Homo sapiens: one gene and its partners. The protein of the gene in region 2 interacts with the protein of the main gene of each other region in a pairwise test. Each region holds a gene or a part of one and is shown on either strand. Other genes may lie near its edges. The genes, in order: GOLM1, TMEM98 and STOM.

Evidence for each region.
Region 1: the proteins of TMEM98 (region 2) and GOLM1 interact in binary tests that used the Homo sapiens proteins (3 or more experiments, as listed by UniProt).
Region 3: the proteins of TMEM98 (region 2) and STOM interact in binary tests that used the Homo sapiens proteins (3 or more experiments, as listed by UniProt).

The regions. Positions count from the first base shown.
Region 1 is NC_000009.12:86,033,514-86,040,558, forward strand, and holds part of GOLM1 (Golgi membrane protein 1), read right to left. Parts: intron 2,995-7,045; coding exon 2,835-2,994; intron 2,113-2,834; coding exon 1,855-2,112; intron 1-1,854.
Region 2 is NC_000017.11:32,938,018-32,944,824, reverse strand, and holds the end of TMEM98 (transmembrane protein 98), read right to left. Parts: intron 5,349-6,807; coding exon 5,289-5,348; intron 4,040-5,288; coding exon 3,832-4,039; 3' UTR 510-3,831; downstream 1-509. UniProt on the Homo sapiens protein: Functions as a negative regulator of MYRF in oligodendrocyte differentiation and myelination. Interacts with the C-terminal of MYRF inhibiting MYRF self-cleavage and N-fragment nuclear translocation.
Region 3 is NC_000009.12:121,339,251-121,346,394, forward strand, and holds part of STOM (stomatin), read right to left. Parts: intron 2,159-7,144; coding exon 1,952-2,158; 3' UTR 392-1,951; coding exon of another isoform or gene 371-391; 3' UTR 1-370. UniProt on the Homo sapiens protein: Regulates ion channel activity and transmembrane ion transport. Regulates ASIC2 and ASIC3 channel activity.

The DNA of each region.
Region 1 (7,045 bases), on a different chromosome or scaffold from region 2:
CTCTCTGGAAATGGTAGGGACGCAAGGGCTGGCTTCCAGGACAAGCACATGCATTATGTGTACTCCACTTGGACTCGGAATCTACAGACAGCATGGCCCTAAATACAAGGGTGCATTCTAGGCAGAACATGGAGAAACTAACAACCCAAATCTCAATTTTTTAAAGAGATAATCAACTCAAGATAAAAGAAAGGTGCCACTGTTTTAGGAAGGAACGGATATCTACAGCTAATGACAGCATCTCCTTAGAATGGAGAGAGGAAATGGAGCTGCCACTGTGAGACACGTGAGAAGGTGTCCCTCATACTTAGAGCATGAGAGCACCCATTACTCTATTCTTCCCTGGAGTGGGCAGCAGCCAGAGAAGATGAGGACAAAAGGCTTTCAAGAGACCTACTCAAAGGGTTTAACTTACATATTTTATATGTGTATGCAGGCTGGTAAACAAAATCTTTTTTTTTTTTTTTTTGAGATGGAGTCTCACTCTGTCGCCCAGGCTGGAGTGCGGTGGCGTAATCTCGGCTCACTGCAACCTCCGCCTCCGGGGTTCAAGCGATTCTCCTGCCTCAGCCTCCCGAGTGGCTGGGATTACAGGCACGTGCTGCCATGCCCAGCTAATTTTTGTATTTTTAGAAGAGATGGGGTTTCACCATATTGGCCAGGATGGTCTTGAACTCCTGACCTCATGATCCGCCCACCTCGGCCTCTCAAAGTGCTGGGATTACAGGCATGAGCCACTGCGCCCGGCCAAACAAAATCTTTTTTAAAAGTGCACACCTGGAAAAGCAGCTCTAGTCTCTTTCTCTGGCTCACTGCCTGGGGTGGAAACTGCACAGGCCTATGTGTCCACCGCGTTTCTTCAAATGAGGTCACCACACCTGCATCTAGAAGCAGGTGCATCCTGCAGGCACTGTGGCATCTCAGGCCCACCTTTGTTACGCTTTGTGACCAGCCGCTGAGGGGTCTGACACTGGAGCGCCACAGGCTGAGCGAGCCAGTGAGATCTCCCCGCCTCACACACCACAAGCATCTTCTTGCTGGGTGAGCACGGAACACAAGGACAGAGCAGGGATACTTAGGGGGAGGCTGACAAAATCCAATTCTTTAACTGGAACTTGGAAGGACACGTTCTTCAGTAAGACACTGAAGTGAAAATTAGATTTAAATGGAATCAAGGTAACTTCTGCAAATAAGTGTATTCTCCAACTTCTGTGACTTGGTCCACCCCAGAGCGCAGGTGTCATGTCCTCAGAAGTGTTCCTGGCTCAGGTGGGAAGGACATTTTCCATATCTGAAGGGACTGAAATACATCCTGGAATAGTCGGTTGATCTCCAATTCCTACCCTTTATTTCTTTAAAAAGAAAAGAGTCAACCAAACCAAAAAGGAGTGATTCACATGTCATTTTTTCTCAATGTTCACATATGCATTAACCTTCATCTACCCAATATTCCTTCCTTCCTTCCTTCATTCATTCACTAGGCACTGATTGTCTAAATGGCACCAGACACTGCACGACGGTGGACATACAAAAATGGGGCATGTGGCCTGCCTGCCAGGAGGGGGCGTCCACTTGATGCTAAGCACCCATCTGCAGGCCATCCACTTGCAAGGTCCCCTCGACTCCCTGCCAATATTGCATCTAAAACCTCGAGTTCTAGAGCATATGCTGCTCTTCCTTCCTGCCTCCCTCTTGATAACGAATAAGAAACCTTCAAACGAAAAGGAATTGGCAAATTGTGGACTGCTGTTTGGTAAAATTCAGGGTGATATGTTGGTGCTGGGAAGGACATGGAGGTGGGCTGGGTGTCTGGTGGAAGGGAGTCCACAGCGGCCCCCGAAACTTCACACCCACCTTCCCCGGCAGCTTCCTGCTCCTCCTCCTGTCCGTCGGGGATGACAAGCTGGTCTCGCTCAGGGCCCTCCATCTCTGGATTTTCCTGGCTCACTGACAGGGCAGCCTGCACCTGTGGGGTCTGGCCCAGTTCTCCGGCTCCCCCGAAGCCTCTTCCACCTACAGGTCTGTCTTCCACCACCTGCTCCCGGCCTGGCTCCTGCGGCAGCCTGTCCCTCTGAGGCTCCTCATTCACCACCTGGATCTCATTGGTTTCCTCTGTGCACAGAACACAGTTAGCTGTGACCTTGCCAGCATTTGATTTAAAAAAAAAAAAAAAAAAAAAAGCAAAACCTGGTGCCACTCAATTCCCAGAGCCTTCCCAAGGAGTGGGGGTGGGGTGGGCTGCACACAGGAGAACAACCAGGTAGCTCCTTTTGTGACCTCAGCCACAGACTGCAGGCCTTTCTGTGCCTGCAGCTCATCGTCAGAACCGCGACAAAGGGAAAAGTAGCTTACCAAAAAAAAAAACAAAACAAAAAAAAAAAAACACCTGGACTAAATTACCTTGACAAGGTACAAAGGGAAAAGGGTATCCTGCTGAGTGACCTGATCATCGGGTCCGCTGGAGCAAGCACTTGGGAGCCAGGGCAGGCAGGCCCACCCAGGGCTTGCTCACAGACACAGCAGCCTCCTGGTTCCCAGTGTCTGGGGCTCAGCCGCCTCCCCCGAGTCCCACAAGCCCACCAATGTCCTGCATAAAGGTGCAGCCTGGGCCTTTCTCTACACAGCTGCCCAGGAACAAGGCACTTCGTTTACAAGGAGGAGACATCTGTCAGAGAAGCCCCAAAGCCCCAATTCCAGGGGCCCAGAGAGACACGTCCCTGCTCCTGGCTGCGCCGCTGCCGGGTTCACTGACTGCCTCAGCAGCTCGCTGGGACTGCTTCCTCTGATGGGGCTCTGGAGAGCTGGGAACAGGGCAACTGCTGGGCTCTGCTTACCTTTCTCAACTTGTCTCTTTGAATCCAAAACCACTTCGGAACTGGGGGCTGGTGTCTGGGACTTGCTGTTACCAAGCACGTTTCCCTTCCCTTGTGGCACCTCTGTGTGTGGCAGGCCTGCTGCCTGCAGCCTGGGCTGAGGCTCACTGAGGGCTTGGAGCTGAAACAGAAGCACAGGACAGCCAGCCAGGGCAGGGCTCTGTGAACAGAAGCCGTAAAAGAATCCTACCAATGCAATGAATCCCACCAATCCCACCACCATATCCTTCCAACCAAGACCCCGAGAAACGCCACAGTCTACTCTGGTCACGCCCTGGTCATGTGGCGTAAATCAGAAGACAAGAGGTTGAGTCAAGGTCTCCCAGAAAGTACTGTCAATACAGAATAAAACTGGGCAGTGATTCTGCTGAGAGGAAGCATTTACGGAATAATAAAATACCTAGGCGGAAGATCAACAACAAAAAAGACATGAACGACACAATACTCCTTGACGAAACAAACATCTGCAGAACCCTCAGCCTAGCAAGGGCAAACACACCTGCTTCTCAGGCACACACACAATATTTTCCAGGATGGACAAATGGCAGGCCACAAAGCAAGCCTCCATACACTTAAATATTTAACTAAAATCACACAAAGTAAATTAATAGAAATGGAATGGATTATAAATCAATAACAGGATGAAACTTATGACATTTGCAAATATTTGGAAATTAAACAACACACTCCTAAATAACCAGTGAGTCCAACAATAAACCACAACACAAATTAGAAAATGCTTGGACAGCCAGGCGCGGTGGCGCACACCTGTAATCCCAGCACTTTGGGAGGCCGAGGCAGGCAGATCACCAGAGGTCAGAAGTTTGAGACCAGCCTTGCCAACATGGTGAAACCCCATCTCTACTAAAAATACAAAAATTAGCCAGGTGTGGTGGCAGGCACCTGTGATTCCAGCTACTTGGGAGGTGAGGCAAGGAGGTGATTTCCAGCTGAGGCAGGAAAATCGCTTGAACCTGGGAGGTGGAGGTTGCAGTGAGCCAAGATCATGCCATTGCATTCCAGCCTGGGGCGACAGAGCGAGACTGTCTCTCAAAAAAAAAAAAAAAAAAAAGAAAATGCTTTGCCACAAAACAAAAACACAGCATACCAAAACTTATGGGAAGCAGCTCCAGCAGTGCTTAGAAGAAATGTACACCTTCAAGCATCTGTATTAGAAGACTTCCAGTTTTCTGTTCCTCACGTGAGAAGCTTAAAAGTCACCACTTAGTCCTAACAAGTAAAAAACTAAACAGACTGAAAAGTTATCAGCTCTTCTTGGATCCATAGGAGAGGTGAGGACAGAGTGTAAATCACTGTCCTTAAGCCTGGAGACAGACAGCCCAATACAGAGAGTCCCGGCTCACCAGGACAGGCTTGGGCAGACATCACCACGGGAACTGGTGTCAGGGTGGGAGAGCCTGACCCTGTCATTTATGAACTGTTTGAGGCTCAGTGTGGATGAGTCTGAGAGTTAAAAACCTGCCCCAGCCAGGCGTGGTGGCTAATGCCTGTAATGCCAGTACTTTGGGAGGCTGAGACGGGCTGATCACCTGAGGTCGGGAGTTCAAGACCAGCTTGACCAACATGGAGAAACCCCGATATACTAAAAAATACAAAATTAGCCAGGTGTGGTAGCGCATGCCTGTAATCCCAGCTACTCGGGAGGCTGAGGCAGGAGAATTGCTTCAACCCGGGAGGCAGAGGTTGTGGTGAGCCAAGATTGCGCCATTGCACTCCAGCCTGGGCGATAAAAGCAAAACTCCAACACCAAAAGAAAAAAAAAAAAAAGAAAAAGAAAAAACCTGCCCCAGTCATAAGGGACTCCCATACTTATGAGTTTTACCCCTAGGAGCTCAACCAGGCTCTCAGTGAATATTAGAGAAAGGCTCTCAGTGAACATCAGAGAAAAATCGGCTTGTGCTTCCAGCAGTGTGGCGGGGAAAGGAACCATTCTGAAACAGGCCAGAGTGCTCTATTCTCCTTAACCAGGCCGGCCCTCACGAGGAGCGCATTACCCAGAGCTCCTGCGGGCATATTATCTGAGCCTAACTGACCTGGGGGAATGAAACACCCAACTCCAGTAAGCTCTAGACTTCCACGTGGGAGAAGGAAGCTACTCAACTCCAGCCCATTCCAGCCACTTTGTCCCACTGGGGTAGGGAGTGGGTACTGAAGAGAAGCATAGGGGACATTCACAGCCAAGGGACTCAGGCTCACTAAAACACTCAGGCTCACTAAAAACCCTCATACTTACAGCACACTGATTTCTGACAAAGGTGCCAAGACAATTCAGTGGGGGAAAAGCAGTCTTTCTTTCAACAAGTGATTACTGAGACAACTTGATAACCGCACACACACAAGAATGAAGTGGGAGCTCTACCTCACACCATATGCAATAATTAAATTAACTGAAAATGAATCACAGGCTTAAACGTAAGAACTAAGAACGATAAAACTCTGAGAAGAAAATGTAACAGTAAATCTTCAAGATCTTGGGTCAGGCAAAGTGTTACTAGATATAATACCAAGAACACACAACAAAAGAAAAAATAAATAAAATGGGGATTTTGTCAAAATTAAGAACTTCTGTGCTTCAACTAAACACCAGCAAGAAAGTGAAAAACCCCACAGAATTGGGAAAAAAAACTTGCAAATCATATATCCATTATCATATATCTTTAATAAAATAGATTTTAAAAACTCTTACAATTCAATAATAAAAATAACTCAATTAAAAAATGAGCAAAGGACCCAAATAGACATTTCTTCAAAGAAGATATACAAATGGCCAATGAAACATGTGAAAAGATGCTGAATATCATCAGGGATATCACAGTTATTAGGGAAATGCAAACCCAAACAACGAGCTGCCACTCCACACCTGCTAGGAAGGGTATCATGAAAAAGGTAGTATCAAGAGTTGGCAAGGATGTGAAGAAACTGGAGCCCTCATAAACTACTGGTGGCAGTCGAAAATGGTATGGCCACTTTGGAAGAAGTCTGGGAGTTCCTCAATAGGTTAAATATAGATTACCATATAACCCAGCAGTTCCACTCCTAGGTATTAACCAAGAGAAATGAAAACATATGACCACACAAAAGCTTCATGTTCATACGGCATTATTCATAATAGCCAAAACATGGAAACACTCCAAATGCCCATCAACTGATGATGAATAATCCACATGTGGTCTATCCACAGGATGGATTAATCAGCCATTAAAGGGAATGCAGTACAGACACATGCTGCAACCCCGATGAGCCCTGAGGTATTCATACTCAGTCAAAGATACCAGACAGTCCGGGCGTGGTGGCTCACGCCTGTAATCCCAGCACTTTGGGAGGCCGAGGTGGGTGGATCACTTGAGGTCAGCCGTTCAAGACCAGCCTGGCCAACATGATGAAACCCCGTCTCTACTAAAAATACAAAAATTAGCCAGGTGTGGTGGTGGGTGCCTGTAATCCCAGCTACTCGGGAGGCTGAGGCAGGAGAATCGCTTGAACCTGGGAGGCAGAGGCTGCAGTGAGCTGAGATCGCGCCACTGCACTCTGGCCTGGGTGAGAGAGCGAGATGCCCTCTCAAAAAAAAAAAAAAAAAGTCAGACACAAAAGGCCACACATATATGATTCTATTGACAGGAAATTGTCCAGATTAGGCAAATCAAGAGACACAAAGTACATTAGCAGTTGGCTGTCTAGGGCTGTGGGGACTGAAGAGAGAACTAAGGGATACACGGTTTCTTTTGTGCCAATAAAAATGTTCTGAAATTGACTGTGGTGATGGCTGCATAACTTTGTGAATATACTCAGAACCCATGAATTGTAAATTTTCTATGGGTGAATCATAGGGAATGCAAATTATATCTTAATAAAGCTGCTATATTTTTAAAAAACTACTCAAAGATCACCCAGAAGGCTTCAAGCAGCAGCTTCGTGGGCTGTGCTCTGCACAGGAGGTGGAATGACAGCACGAGACATGGAGTCGGCCAGACCTGAGGTCTTGATGGGCTCTACCACTGACCAGGTGGTGTGACACTGGCCACAGAACTTAACCCCTCCCATGGGGCTGGGGTCCTCAAGTCAGGAAAACAGCAACTCTCTCCCAGGCTGGCTGCGAGCTTTAAATACGATAATTCCCGTAAAGCCCTGAGCTTGTGAAGCGGGGCTGGAGG
Region 2 (6,807 bases):
TTTGCCTCAAATTCTGAAAATTGCTCATCAGCCTTTCTCATAGAAACACAGTAAGACCCACCAGAACAAACACAGCACAACCATATTATTTCCCCCGGCACTTTCTGTGTGTGTGTACATGTGTGTGTTTTGAGACAGGGTCTTGCTCTGTTGCCCAAGCTAGAGTGCAGTGGCTCTATCAAGATTCACTGCAGCCTCCACCCAACCCAGGCTCAAGCGATCCTCCTGCCCCTGCCACCTGAGTAGCTGGGACCATTTTCTGTTCTGATGCCTGACTCCTTCTTTGTCAAGTCTCCATTCAGGCAGCAGCTCTGCCCTATTTCAACCCCACCCCTGCCCTGTCCCTTCTCTGTGTGCCCACAGTCCCTCTTGTGGTCCCCTCCATCACAGCACTGGCTACAGTCATGGCTCCAGCAGTTGCTCATTTCTCTATCGCTCCTTAAGGGCAGGGATTGTGCCTTTTGTTTCATAGCTCCAGCATCTAGCACGAACCCTCTTCCACAGAAAGCTCTTGGTATGCATTTATTGGAGACAGGGAGGAGGTGAGGAGGATAGAAATTCTTCATCTGACACTTTCCCCACATTTCCAAGGCCATAAAGCAATGCAGGGCCTTTGAACTGTAGGCCATTTTCTAAAAGTCTGCTCGTGTGGGCACACAGGGTCTCTGGAGAGGGAACTCCTGGAATGAGGCAGGTCAGGGGGAGCACCAGGGGAAGTTGGATGCCAGGAATACGTGTTCCCTCTTGGAGATCTCACAAGCTGGGGGAATTTCTCTGGAGGAATGTGAGTTGCACAATCGACCCTTTGAACACTGATTAGAGGCGACGGCTTTGTATGTCTTCATATGAACAGACTTGTAGTGGGGCAGGGACAAGGCTACTCTCCCTACTGTAGGGATTCCAGATTTTTGGCCACTCAATTCCAGAGCCCATGAACAGAAGTCACTGCTTGGACCAAGCCATGGTAACTGAGGTGACGCCATCTGGGTCAGCGGCATCAGAGAATGGGAAGCTGTGGAGAGAAGGGTGTTAACATTGGCTAATCAGAACCAGGCCCACAATTGGGCAGCTCACACATACCGTTTTGCTTGTTGACATACCAACCCAATGACAATAGCCTTGACCATACAGATGAGAATGCTAAGGACCAGAATGTTAAGAACTTGACCAAGCTCACACTGTAAGTCACTGAGCCCAAATTCAAACCTAATTCTGACTTCAAATATCTTGTTCTCTTCACATTGAATCTCTATCTCCAAGTAATTTCTTTTTCATCAGAATTTGAGTCTAATGCTCCTATTCCAGGCCAGAGGGAAGAGAGACATGGAAGGAAGGCTCTACTACCATGTATACAGACGCTAGAGAACTAGGCACTTAGGAATGTGTCTGTTGCCTGGGAAACCACACCTGGCACAGAGACAGTCCTGAGATCCCTGGCACTCACTAACCAGCCCCTTCCAAGGGAGGAAGTAACTTCAGCCAACTCCCGAAGGGCCTAGAGGAGTGGCATTGCCTCCTACCCCAAAGACTGCTTCCACTTCAACCATCAGCCACCAACACCAAATTTATCCAGAGGCTTCTTACTTGTCCAGCACTAGAAAAAAAAACTACACAGCAGTGGGATCAGAAATCCTACAGTCCAGCAGACACCTCCAATATCTTCGGCAACCTCTCCTCACAACAGAAAGGGCAGCATCTAAGGGATCCAGAAAGCCAATGTGCCAGGACTTGCCAGGACTCAGAGAAGGTAATCGACATTGGGCATTGCTTCAGGGGTGCTGGGAAAGCTCTCCACCCTGCAGACCCACACCAGGTGGATGGTATTTGAGATACCAATTCAGAACTGCTTCTCTGTGGCTTAGGGCTCTAGTGCAGGTTAAAATGCAGGGGACACTTACAACTGTGGCAGCCATTGCAAACTTAGCATGAATTGCTTTCCAGTCTAATTACGAAAACAGGTTCTGAAAGGGAGGTAAAAAGACAAAAATAGGATGACTCTGGATGTTTACTGTGGAGGCCTCAAATAGAAAAGTCAAAGTGACTTTGTATACATTCCCCATTCACAGCTTGACAGGACGGGAAAGTTCACCACTTAACGTTTTTAAGAGTTGATGGAAGCCACCAATCCAATAAGGTGTCCCCTGGAGCCCATCCAGAATCCATCCTTTAGTCCATGAGAGTTGAGCTCCAGCTTCCCTCTCCTGACTCCATATCCCAGCTGTGGTTCTGTGGTTTGGTGTACATTGTGCAGGTTGGAAGTGGCCTGTTTTCCTGGAAAGAATGAAATGTGCCCAAATGGAAAGACAAACCAGGTCCCAATCTTGGATTTGGGAATATGGGTTCCTGGTTCCCCAGAATCCAGCTGAGGAATTTTCTGACTTCAGTTAGACAGAGAAAATGACATGGGAACAGATGTGCAACTCCAAACATGCTTGACAGCATAGGCTACGAACCTGGGCAGCCCCTATACCAGGCCCCTCTCCCAAGAGCAAGCTGGCTCTGAGAATCTGAGAAGTGAAGAATTCAAGCTTTTCCTACAGGCTTATGACAGAAATTATGCCATTTGGGTATGTATCCAAATTATATAATTGTGATTCTGGGTCATAGCTTTCATAATCTTTCAATGTTTGCAAAATGAACAGATATTAATATCAGAAGAAAGGGGGAACACATCGTTCAAGTCATTGCTATTGTTAATGTGGAAACTACTTCATAGTGCTATCTTCACTTCTGCCTGAACTCCAAGAGGTCTTTAAATATATTTTATATATATGTATGTTTTGGAGACATGGTCTCACTCTGTCGCCCAGGCTGGAATGCAGTGGCACAATCAGGGCTCACTGCAACCTTCACCTCCTGGGCTCAAGCGATCCTCCCACCTCAGCCTACCAAGCAGCCGCACGTGTCACCATGCCCAGCTAATTTTTGTAGTTTGTGTAGAGATGAGGTTTCACCATGTTGCCCAGGCTGGTCTCAAACTCCTGGGCTCAAGCAATCCACCCACCTTAGCCTCCCAAAGTGCGAGGATTACAGGTGTGAGCCACCGCGCCCAGCCTAAATATCTCATTTTGAGGCATACACAGAAATCATCCTCAGGATTCTTAGGCTCTCTCCTTCCATCTAAGTATGTCCCACAATACACCATGCATATGAATTTGACTCAATAACTACACACTTGAGGGAAACATAAGTATAAATTTACTATCCACCTAGTGGTAGCTAGGTAAAATTGCAGGCATAAAGATAAAAAAGAAATCATCAACTTTGTAGTTCCTCAGCTTCAAACCCAAACCTGCAAGGGAGAGGAGAGACCCAGACGCCTCAGGGACCAGGCAGATAATACAAATAAATGAAACAGGCCAGGTGAGAGAGTACAAGTCTTGCCAAAAGAAGAAACCCCTACTTAGTTTCAATTGATTGTCCTCTTCTGAAAATGCAGATCAGAATTGCCACACATTCTGACCGATCGAGAGAGGCCAGAAATTCTAATTTTAATGTGAAACCTCTTGATTTCTTAGACGGTGGCTCAATTTTCTTGAAAACACTAGGTGAGCTAAATAAAGCTGACAGTCCACCAGTTTTCAATACTCCTCTTGCAGAGAGTGAATGGCATCTCCCCTAACTGTAGTATTAGACTGCCACTCACCAGCCACAGTTTGCAACTGCAAAAGAGGCATAAACTGACGGGGATCTCCTGCTTTACTATGCACACACAGCTGAACTCTCCAGCCGTGGAGAACAACTAACTCTATAGGAAAAAGTAGAAGGCTAAGCTGAGCCATCCAGGGATGGCGGCAGGGGCCTTCATGGCTAGCTGCTGGCCTGTAGGCACTAAATTGCAGACTGCTCCTGCAGGAAGCCTTCAGGGCCTGGGAGGCCTTTATCTGGCTCAGAAGCTAGGGCTGCTTCTCGAAGGACTTCCAAATGCTCCTCAGCAGCCGACAGAGACTGGTCAATCCAGTCCAGGCCTCCCGTCAGATGGCAGGCATTCCTTGTCACCAGCACCAGGTGACTGACAGACAGGAGCAGGGCAGTCGTCCTAGGGAAAAAAAGAAAATAGGGTCAGGTTTCCTAGGAAATGAGGGACTTTGCACAAAAGCCCAAATAGATAGACTTTTTGACTAGTATTCCCCAAACTGCACACCCTTCCCTAGGATGTTGGTAGGTATGCAATTTAAAGTTGGCTCCATGCTCAAATAAATTTGGAGATGGCTGGGTTAAACATGGTTAACTGAAGCCTGCCTCAGAGCCTTCTGAGATGTACCTGGTAAAGCTCCAAGGAGAATATAACAGGCTGTCTCTCACAAGCTTATTTAAGACTGTGGAAGCCATTTTCTGCAGCACACCTATTAACATCTCCCCAAAGAGCGCTTTGTGAAACAGTTCAGATATAGTCAATCAGATGAGCATATTCCCCAACCGCTGCCCACTGAAACATAGGACAGACACACCCTCACTTAAACATTCCTTATTGATTACAAATTGGTAAGGCCCAGGGCTGGTTTATCCAACTCAAAAAAAAAAATGTAACTGAAAACCAAAGTGAGGAGTAGATTTTTCAGTGCTGAAAGATTCACTGTAGAATACCTTTTATATGGTTAGTACCATGATGCATTTGAGAATACATTACAGATTATTAACCCACGGACAAAGCTCGGCAGCAGTAGGAGTGGGGCAGAGAAACCAAAGCTGAAGCGCTGTGACCCACTGCCGATCTGGCAACTGTTACATGTGTATGACACAGTCATATAAATCCAAGGCACGAAAGAATCTATATTTCTTAAATGGGTTGCATCTGGTATAGGAACATAACAATTTCATAGGGCTAAGTACACTCTGTGTATGCGCATGTCTGGTGGCAGGTGAGCACAGCTGTGGCTGACCTGTCACCTCCATTCTCACTGCTCTGGGAACCACTGCCCCACCGCCCAACTGGGTGGCACTCACAGCTAAGGCATGTCTGCTTCTGGGGTACAAAAATCAGAGGGGGAAAGGGGAAAAGGTAGAAGGGAAGGCACAGTTAGGATGTAACATGGCCGGAAGTCTAATCATAACAATTTAAAATCTAAGACTGCCTCTTTCTTCTCCTGGGTTTCAGGAGAGGACTGGCCTCTATCACCCAGTCAGGCGCCGCTCACTGAAGTAAATGGCACGCATGGCCCGGGCAGCCTAAGGAGGCTGCAAAGCCACCCTCCCTACACAAGCCAGTCAGCCAGCCTCACAGATCTGATAAAACGGTTGTGGACCTCTGCATGAAAAACCGAACATGCACCCACCCCTGGTCTCACCGTGCGTCCAGGAGTTTGGGGTCCAACGGAGGGTACATCGACTTCACAACATCATCCACCCTGACCGGAGGCAAAAGGTGTTCAGTACTTCACTTTCCTGATCTCCTTTTCTCCTTTTTTTTTTTTTCCTGAGACAGAGTCTCGCTCTGTCACCCAGGCTGGAGTGCAGTGGTGCTATCTCAGCTCACTGCAACATCCACCTCCCAGGCTCAAGTGATTCTCCTGCCTCAGCTTCCCAAGTAGCTGGGATTACAGGCACGCGCCACCATGCCCAGCTAATTTTTGTATTTTTAGTAGAGACGGGGTTTCACCATGTTGGCCAGGCTAGCCTTGAACTCCTGACCTCAGGTGATCCACCCACCTCAGCCTTCCATAGTGCTGGGATTACAGGCACGTGAGCCACACGCCTGGCCCCTTCCTTCCTTTCTATCTTTATTCCAGTTCTTCTTTTTTGGTATTCCAGACCTGGTCTTTAATGGTTCTTTCTCCAATTGCTTCTGCATTCTCAGACAGACACTTAGGCACAAAGACTTCAGGTTCAGTCTTTGCAGAGACTACTTTGTTTTCTAGTTTTGTTTCAGTTCCAATGGTTTTTTAAAATACAGTCATACATATGGAATGATGTTCAAGATTACTACTATATTAAAAAGGCAAATTGCCAAATAATATGTAAAGCTCAATCTGTCATTTGCATAAAAATAGATAAACAAAAGCTCTGAAATGTGGGGTTGGGAAGGATCTGGAGGAACACTCACCACTTAATAGTGGTTTTTTCCTACAATTGGGAGGGAGTAGACTTTCCAGGTCATGTATGTCTGCAGTATTTCACATTTTTATAAGCATTAATTACTCTTGTATTCAGGAAAAAAAAATACAAAGCTAAAGGTATGTAAGACACCGAAAAAGAAGGCCATGAGTTTCATTTGGCTTCACACTGCTCTACTGGATTTCTTCTACCCTGTGGTTAATTTTTTTAAATCAAGTTCAGAACTACAATTCATTCTGATTTGCGTGGCACAAGGTTTTGCTCCAAATCTTTGCTCATGAACACTCGATAGGAAGAAAAAATAAAGATGTATTGTTTGATTTCTAAAAGCACTTGAAAAAAAGATGGCCTCAAACACTCTTATTCACGGCTGTGGAGCCGGTGAGGACATGCAGAGACACAGTCACCCTCCGCGCCTATCTCAGCCAGCTCCTTTCTCTAGTGCCCTGGAGCTGAAGCCACCTCCTCGAGACTCACAGGCCATCAACACACTGTGTGGGATAAATGGAGCAGGAAAAACAATGGGGACAAAACATGGCCAGAAGGAGAAAGAAGTGTGAGGGCAAAAGGACAAAGCAGGACCCTGGCTGAATTATGGCACGGAGCATTCTAGAAGTAGTCCAAGGTACTCTTTAGGATGGGCCTGTGAGCACCAGAACAGGTCCACTCTCTGGACAATGCCACACCCTCATCTTAGGACCCGTGCTGATCCTACTCACCCAGGCTCACACAGAAACCTCAACCTCCTGAAAG
Region 3 (7,144 bases), on a different chromosome or scaffold from region 2:
TATCTGGAGACAGGAGAACTCAAGGAACCAAAAGCACTGTTACTCTAAGTCTCAGAAAAGGTTTTCAGTCAGGATATGGAGGCTCCTGGTCCTCAAGGGTGAACCACTTCACACAACAGATAAAACCATCATTTTAAAATTCAAAATGTAAGTGCAACTTGAGTTTAAGTTGCACTGCTCCATACCTCTAATAAACTCAGCTAGGAGCCAGGATACATGGTAGTTCAAGGCTTCCTAAAATAAGCTTGAAATTGGGGTACAGGGGAAGGGACATCCATTGGCTGGATGGACAGAGTGGTTGAGCTAAAGAGAGCTATAAAGGCTCGTGCTGGGAAAGAAAGCTGTTATGCTTAGACTTCTCTAGGTGAACTCAGAGTCTCAAAGAGGAAATGTTACAAATGTCACCCGCCAGCTTTCTGGCCAGTAAGCAGAATGCCAGGTTGCTCAGATTCACAGACATTTGCAAAACAGAAGATGTCTCCTAATATTATAGACTAAGAATTTGTTGTCCAGAGGAGCTGACCAGTTCCTCTTTCAGCATCAATATACATGATAGAAGAATGACTAGGTAAATTTAAAAAGACCTACATCTATATAGATATTGTAAGTTTGACAGTATCTGCCCAAGATCATTAGACACTATATAGTCAATATACTGTGAATTCCTTATACTATGTAATGAATGGGTTTGTAATCAACATATTTCACAGTGTACCACAGTTAACAGCATGCAGATAGTAAAATATAATGGTTTCCTGAAGTTATCTCTTAAAAAAGTATTTTAGTCCTTCAGCTATTCAAATAGATATATAACAATTGCATATAGAACGTAGAGAAAATTTTATTAAAAAATTAAAACTATTTAAAACCTGATATATGAAAATAGGCAACAGTGAGAAAAAAGCACTTTTGTGACAAATATTTAGCTGGTTTGAAAGACAGAACAAGGAGGAATCATTTACTCATAAAGAAGGCTCAAATAAGTTAAAACATGGATGTATTTTTAAAATGACCACTCTAGTAGTGAATTTAAAAGTCTTTTAAGGGTTAGAGTAATCTTTTTCATTAGTCTTGGCTATTTCCTCTAGTTCTGACAAGTACAGGCAAGAAAATGGCTACTCTCAAGTAAGGATTATTCTGAAACACGGTCTGGATTTAGAAAATAAATGAACATTAGGGAAATTTCCTTAATTAAGACTCTCCAAACCAGGTGTGGTAGCTCATGCCTGTAATCCCAGCACTTTGGGAGGCAGAGGTGGGTGGATCACCTGAGGTTAGGAGTTCGTGACTAGCCTGGCCAACATGGTGAAACCCCGTCTCTACTAAAAAACAATAATAATAATACAAAAATTAGCTGGGCATGGTGGCATGAGCCTGTAATCCCAGCTACTGGGGAGGCTGAGGCAGGAGAATCTCTTGAACCCAGGAGGCGGAGGTTGCAGTGAGCCGAGATCATGCTATTGCACTCCAGCCTGGGCAACAAGAGTGAAACTCCATCTCAGAAAAAAAAAAAAAAAGACTCTCTGGAGGTAAGGCACATATGACCTGGAGAAGCTGGTTGTGGTGTAAGGTCATCACTTTCTGCAAAGCATTTAGCCAGTCAGCGGTGTCAGGTGGCAGTTACAGCCCAGGTTCTTGCCTCTGGCCTGGGTGCTTAGGGGGTTCAGAATGAGTCAGTGGAAGTCAAAACAAGAGGGATCTAACCTACTACATAATAATCTAAAAATACAAACTTTTAACTATTTTAAGACTAACAGATTACCTTATATAAATCACCAATCTCTCAGTATTTACAAGCTAACAATTCTTTCACCTATTTTTATAACTGCTATACATTCTGGGAACACCACAATTGACATATGGAAAAAGAAAAGCCCTACCCTCTCTTTATGAGTTAAAGGCTAATTTGGTCCCCGACTTCATGCTTGGAAGGCTAGCGCTCATCTCTACACTAGCCTAGATGGCTGTGTTTTGCCCCTATGATTCCTTGCAGCATATCTATGGGCAGAGGGAAGACAATTGTTGAGTTTTTCTCAGCAGCAATGGTGGTCAGTGTCTGCAGGTATCGGAGCTGAAGGGCTGCAGGAGATTCAGTGATGACCATGGAGGCTTCTTTCAGAGCCCTGGATGCATTCATTTCTCCTTCGGCTGCAATAACCTATGGACAGGTGAAAGGAGGGGTTGAACTGGAGAAAACCTCATGGGGACACACAGCACTCTTCAACCGGGGGTATGTATACCTCAGGTGGTCCACAAAACTTTCTAGGGCGTATGCCAGAGTAGTTTTAAGAAAATCAATTTCTACATACTCAGTTTCCATATGCTTCTTTTTCTGAAACTGACTTGCCTGACTAGTGCCTGGATCAAGACATTCTCTTTTACTATAGCCTTTCTCCCATTTTCCAGGGTAACAAACAAAGGGATAATTCAAAATACTGTGCAGGATTGAGAAAGCAAGTAACTTTAATGACTGCAGGCAAATCCTTTTGCAAGTCAGCAGCATTTCCAATTCTCTGATGAGTACCTTACTAAACTGAAAGCTGACAGGTCATTATAAATATTTTTTGATGAAAGACTGTGATATGATTTTTTTAGCACATAAATTCAAAGTGCTAAGAACTGTATGATACTACTTTAAACAGAACTTCCATTTCCATCTACTTATTTATGTAAATAAGGTTTCAAAGTCCTTATAGCTATAAAAATGAAAAATAGGAATAAAATTGATGCTGAATCGTGTCTCATTCTAGCATTAAACAACAGCCATCTATACATGTACGATTTAATTCTCATTCATCTTATAAAGACAAGCATTTCTAGTAAAAATTGACTTCTGGTACTGGGTGCAGTGGCTCACACCTGTAATCCCAAAACTTTGGGAGGCCAAGGCGGGCAGATCACTTGAGGTCAGGAGTTCGAGACCAGCCTGGCCAACATGGCAAAACCCTATCTCTACTAAAAGTACAAAAATTAGCTGGGCGTTGTGGCAAGCACCTGTAAACCCAGCTACTTGGGAGGCTGAGACAGGAGAATTGCTCGAACCCGGGAGGTTGCAGTGAGCCGAGATCATGCCACTGCTGCACTCCAGCTTGGCTGACAGAATGAGAATCTGTCTCAAAAAAAAAAAAAAAAATTGACTTCTTATTTAGGAGAAATTCTGAAATGTTTGTAGAACCTTGTTTTTAGTTACAGGAAATTTTTAAAAATTAATTCTAACTTATGGACTAAATATGTTGCAGTATGTTAATAAAATAATTCATGACAAAATGTATGTTAGGAAAAGAATCTGGCGGAAGTGAAGATGCAATAAAAAACTTAGGTTTAAGAAGAAGAAGAAAAAAACAATAAAAAGCTCCTGACTGTTAAGAGTTTACTTACATATTTTTAATGGATAACTAAATCATTATTATTTCTCATTGGGTACATTTAAAAGAATGATGTTAACAGTTTTATTTAAAAATGTCAATATTTACAACATGCCAGGAATTATATTCTTGGCAAGTACATAAATTCAAGATGAAAAATTTTTACATGCCGATTTAAAATGTTTGATGGACTTTATAGTTTTTCTAAATTCTGTAAGGGGTTTCACAGGCAAAAAAGTTTGAAGATCACTCGAGTAGTAGACAGAACAGGAGTTCTGGAGTCAAATGGACTTGAGTTCAAATCCCAAATCTAACATTTACCAGCCGAATGTCCTCAGAGAGGTTACTGAACATCCTGAACCTCAGTTTCCCATTCTTAAAGCAGACTAACATGTACTTCAGAGGACCACTTGTGAGGAAGACAGAGAAAGTATATAAAGTGTTAAATGAATAAAGGGGGCTATTATAGAGGAATGGCAAGTGACAAGACCTGATTTTTGGGTCCAACTATGCTTTAATGCACAAAAGATTCAAGGTAGTTACTTTAATTCATAATCCTAGAAGAAGGAAAGGTATTAAGACACCATAATTATCAAGATTAAAAGTACAATTTCTCCAGGTTATTATCCTCACTTGAATCTTGAATAATTAATGGTCCATAATACTCCATGAATATCAGAATTGGAGGTGATGGTCTTATGCCCAGTGAGATTTCATTCACTCACACAGCAAAATTTGGGGGCCTTCTAGGGTTAATAAGCCCTGTGTAGGAAAAGCTAAGGATAGAGTGGAATCCCTAGCCTTCTTCAGCTCCTGGTCAGGTAGGGAAGGCAGACATGGAAGTAGATCATTTCATTCTAGTGTGATAAATGCTGACAGACATATGTACAAGGCACAGTGCAAGCAAACAGAAGAAAGCAACTTTTCCAGAGGGTGACGTGGTGAGGTTATAGAAGTTGAATATTAAATGATAAAATGTTTGCTGTTTAGAAAAAGATGAGGAAGAATATTTTGGGCAGAACACATGAAACGGTACTGAGGTATAAAAATGGTATATTCCAGAAAACTGTCAATGGCTGAATACTATGGCAGGAAGAGGGGAAAGGTGGGGGATGAATGGGGCCGGGTTCTGAAGGGCAGTGAGGGCCAGGGTGTTTGGTCTTCATTCTGTAGGCAATGGGAAGCTGCAGAATGATTTTAAGCAGGTAAGTAAACTCCATCAGATCTAGTTTGAAAAAGCTCTCTGACAGATGTCTGAGGTTAGAAGAGAAGGCAGTGAAAGCTGCTAGTGGAACTGCTTTAGAGTGGCCGGTGCGATTCATAGGTGGTGGGGACAGAGAATGAAATGGTTTGGGGAGCTATTCTCCCTCCCCGAAGGAGGGCGAATCAGTGGAATTTGGAGACTAGGTAGGAGGAGGAAAGGGGGACACAGGCTGAGACCCAGGTTTCCAGGTTTTGGTTGCATAGATTAGTGCCATTAATGGAGATAGGATACAGAATATAGTACTCACTGAGAGAAAGGATCCAGCTTATAGGATAAAAACCTTAATTTATCAAAGCCACACATCATGTCCTGCCTAGGTCTGTGAGAAGGGACAAGTGCCAGCTTTGCTCAAAGAAAACCACAGAACTGTATTCCAAGGTAGGCACTACAGAGAATACATCAGAAATCCCCTGCTATGAGAGCAGCAGGCTCTCATTTTTTCCATATCATCTCAGATGTCCAATTAGGCACTTTTTTCTTTGGACATGGACCAACTGAAAAGATATCTCATTTCCCACCACCAATCAATACACAATCGCTTGGCTGAGAAGCCAGACCCACCGGGCTGGGCACACATTTTGTTCATAGAAAAGCCACACTGAGCAAGCTGCCAAAGATGTAAACAACACCACCGGCTTTGTCTAAATACAGGCCAAGTACACTCCGTTGATAGGATCTTAGAGAGCAAAGCAAGCTATTTGTGGGTGTGCACGGCTTTTGTCGAATGTGCAGTAATCTCATAGCAATCAACATTTCATATTTATAGAACATCATTTTAAAGTCTGGCATTTTCATGTATGTGAAATTGGTGCTACCTGTCCCTTCTGCAGACCAGGTGGTCTGGGCAGAGGAAAAGGCAGAGAAAGGTGATCTGTATTTCTGCACTCCATCCTCTCAATTAATAGACTTCTACACCCAGAAACATGAGCCCAAAAGCATGTGCCAGGTGTTTTTCTGAGAGTTATGAAAAGGAAATAAAAGCTGATGCAAACACAAAAGATATTACATTTCAGGCCACTAAGAGCTGGTCTAAACACTTTAAAAACCAAACCTAACATACAGAGAAACACGTAGGAGAATCTGTCCTCTTCTGTGACCGGCTTCTTTCACTCAAATTATGTGTGTGAGCACTTACATTCATTCTCTTTGCTATGTAGTATGCCTACATGTGAATAAACCAGACTTCATTCATTCAGCTAGGAATGGACATTTGGGTATTCTACAGTTTGGGTCAATGTGCTGCTGTGAACATTCTAGTACATGCCTTTTGGTAAACATATGAGTGCATTTCTGTTAGATTCATACTTAGGAGTTGGAGCTGCTGGCTCATAGGGTATACAAATGTTCAGTATGAATAGACATTGCCAGACTGTTTTCCACAGTGGTTGTATTAAGTTACACTGCCACCAGCAGAATATGAGAGTTCTAGTTCCTCTCTCACCCACACTTGGTTCTTTTCCGTTCTTTTCAGGCCATTCTGATAGCTGTCTAGTGTGACATCCGCTTATAATGTGAATTTGCATTTCCCCGATGGCTAATTAGCCTAAGGAATTTTTCTATAAAGTCTCTTAATCTTTAGATTATTCCACTCTATCTCACCTTTCCTGTGCAATTTATTTGTTGAAGAAACTGTGACCCCCCTATTTTCCATGAGAATTTCAATACAATAAGCCTATGGTTGTTGCAGGGTTACTGTATTTTACAGAAGGGCTAGGCTCATTGTGATTCTATGTGTGAACTCCAAGACAGTCACTGCCCAGGTTCATGAGACTGCTTCTAGACTAACCCTACAGCCCCGTCCAAGTGGGAGCATGGCAATTCAGAATTCTAAGCGGTTTCTTCTATCTTTTCTTACTGTTATAAAGGGAAGATAGAAATTTTCTTTCCAAACTCTTAAGAATGCTATGGAAGAGGCTCATAGCCCATCCTGGGAAGTCAGTACTAGAGGAGGCAATGAGGAGCAGAGGGGAATTCTAATTTCCACTGCTACTAATCAACTGTGCGACCTTGCGGACGTCACTTAACTTTTCAGAGCTTCAATTTTTCCTTTGAATAGTGGGATGGCAAACAAGTTTCATTTTTTTTTAAGTTTTTATTATTATTAATTTTTTATTTAATTTAATTTTTTTGAGAAGAAGTCTTGCTCTGTCGCCTGGGCTGAAGTGCAGTGGCGCAATCTCAGCTCACTGCAACCTCCACCTCCAGGGTTCAAGCAATTCTCCTTCTCAGCCTCCCCAGTAGCTGGGATTACAGGCGCCTACCACCACACCAGGCTACTCTTTGTATTTTTAGTAAGGACGGGGTTTCACCATGGTGGCCAGGCTGGTCTTGAACTCCTCACCTCAGGTGATCCACCCACCTCAGCCTCCCAAAGTGCTGGGATTACAGACGTGAGCCACTGTGCTTGGCCTCAAGTTTTGTTTTTTAGAGCTAACTCTAAGCAGTTGAGGGTTGTTACCCAGAGTGCTATAGAAGGGTTCTGAGGCCAAGTCTAAGCTCAGAGGAAAACAGTGCT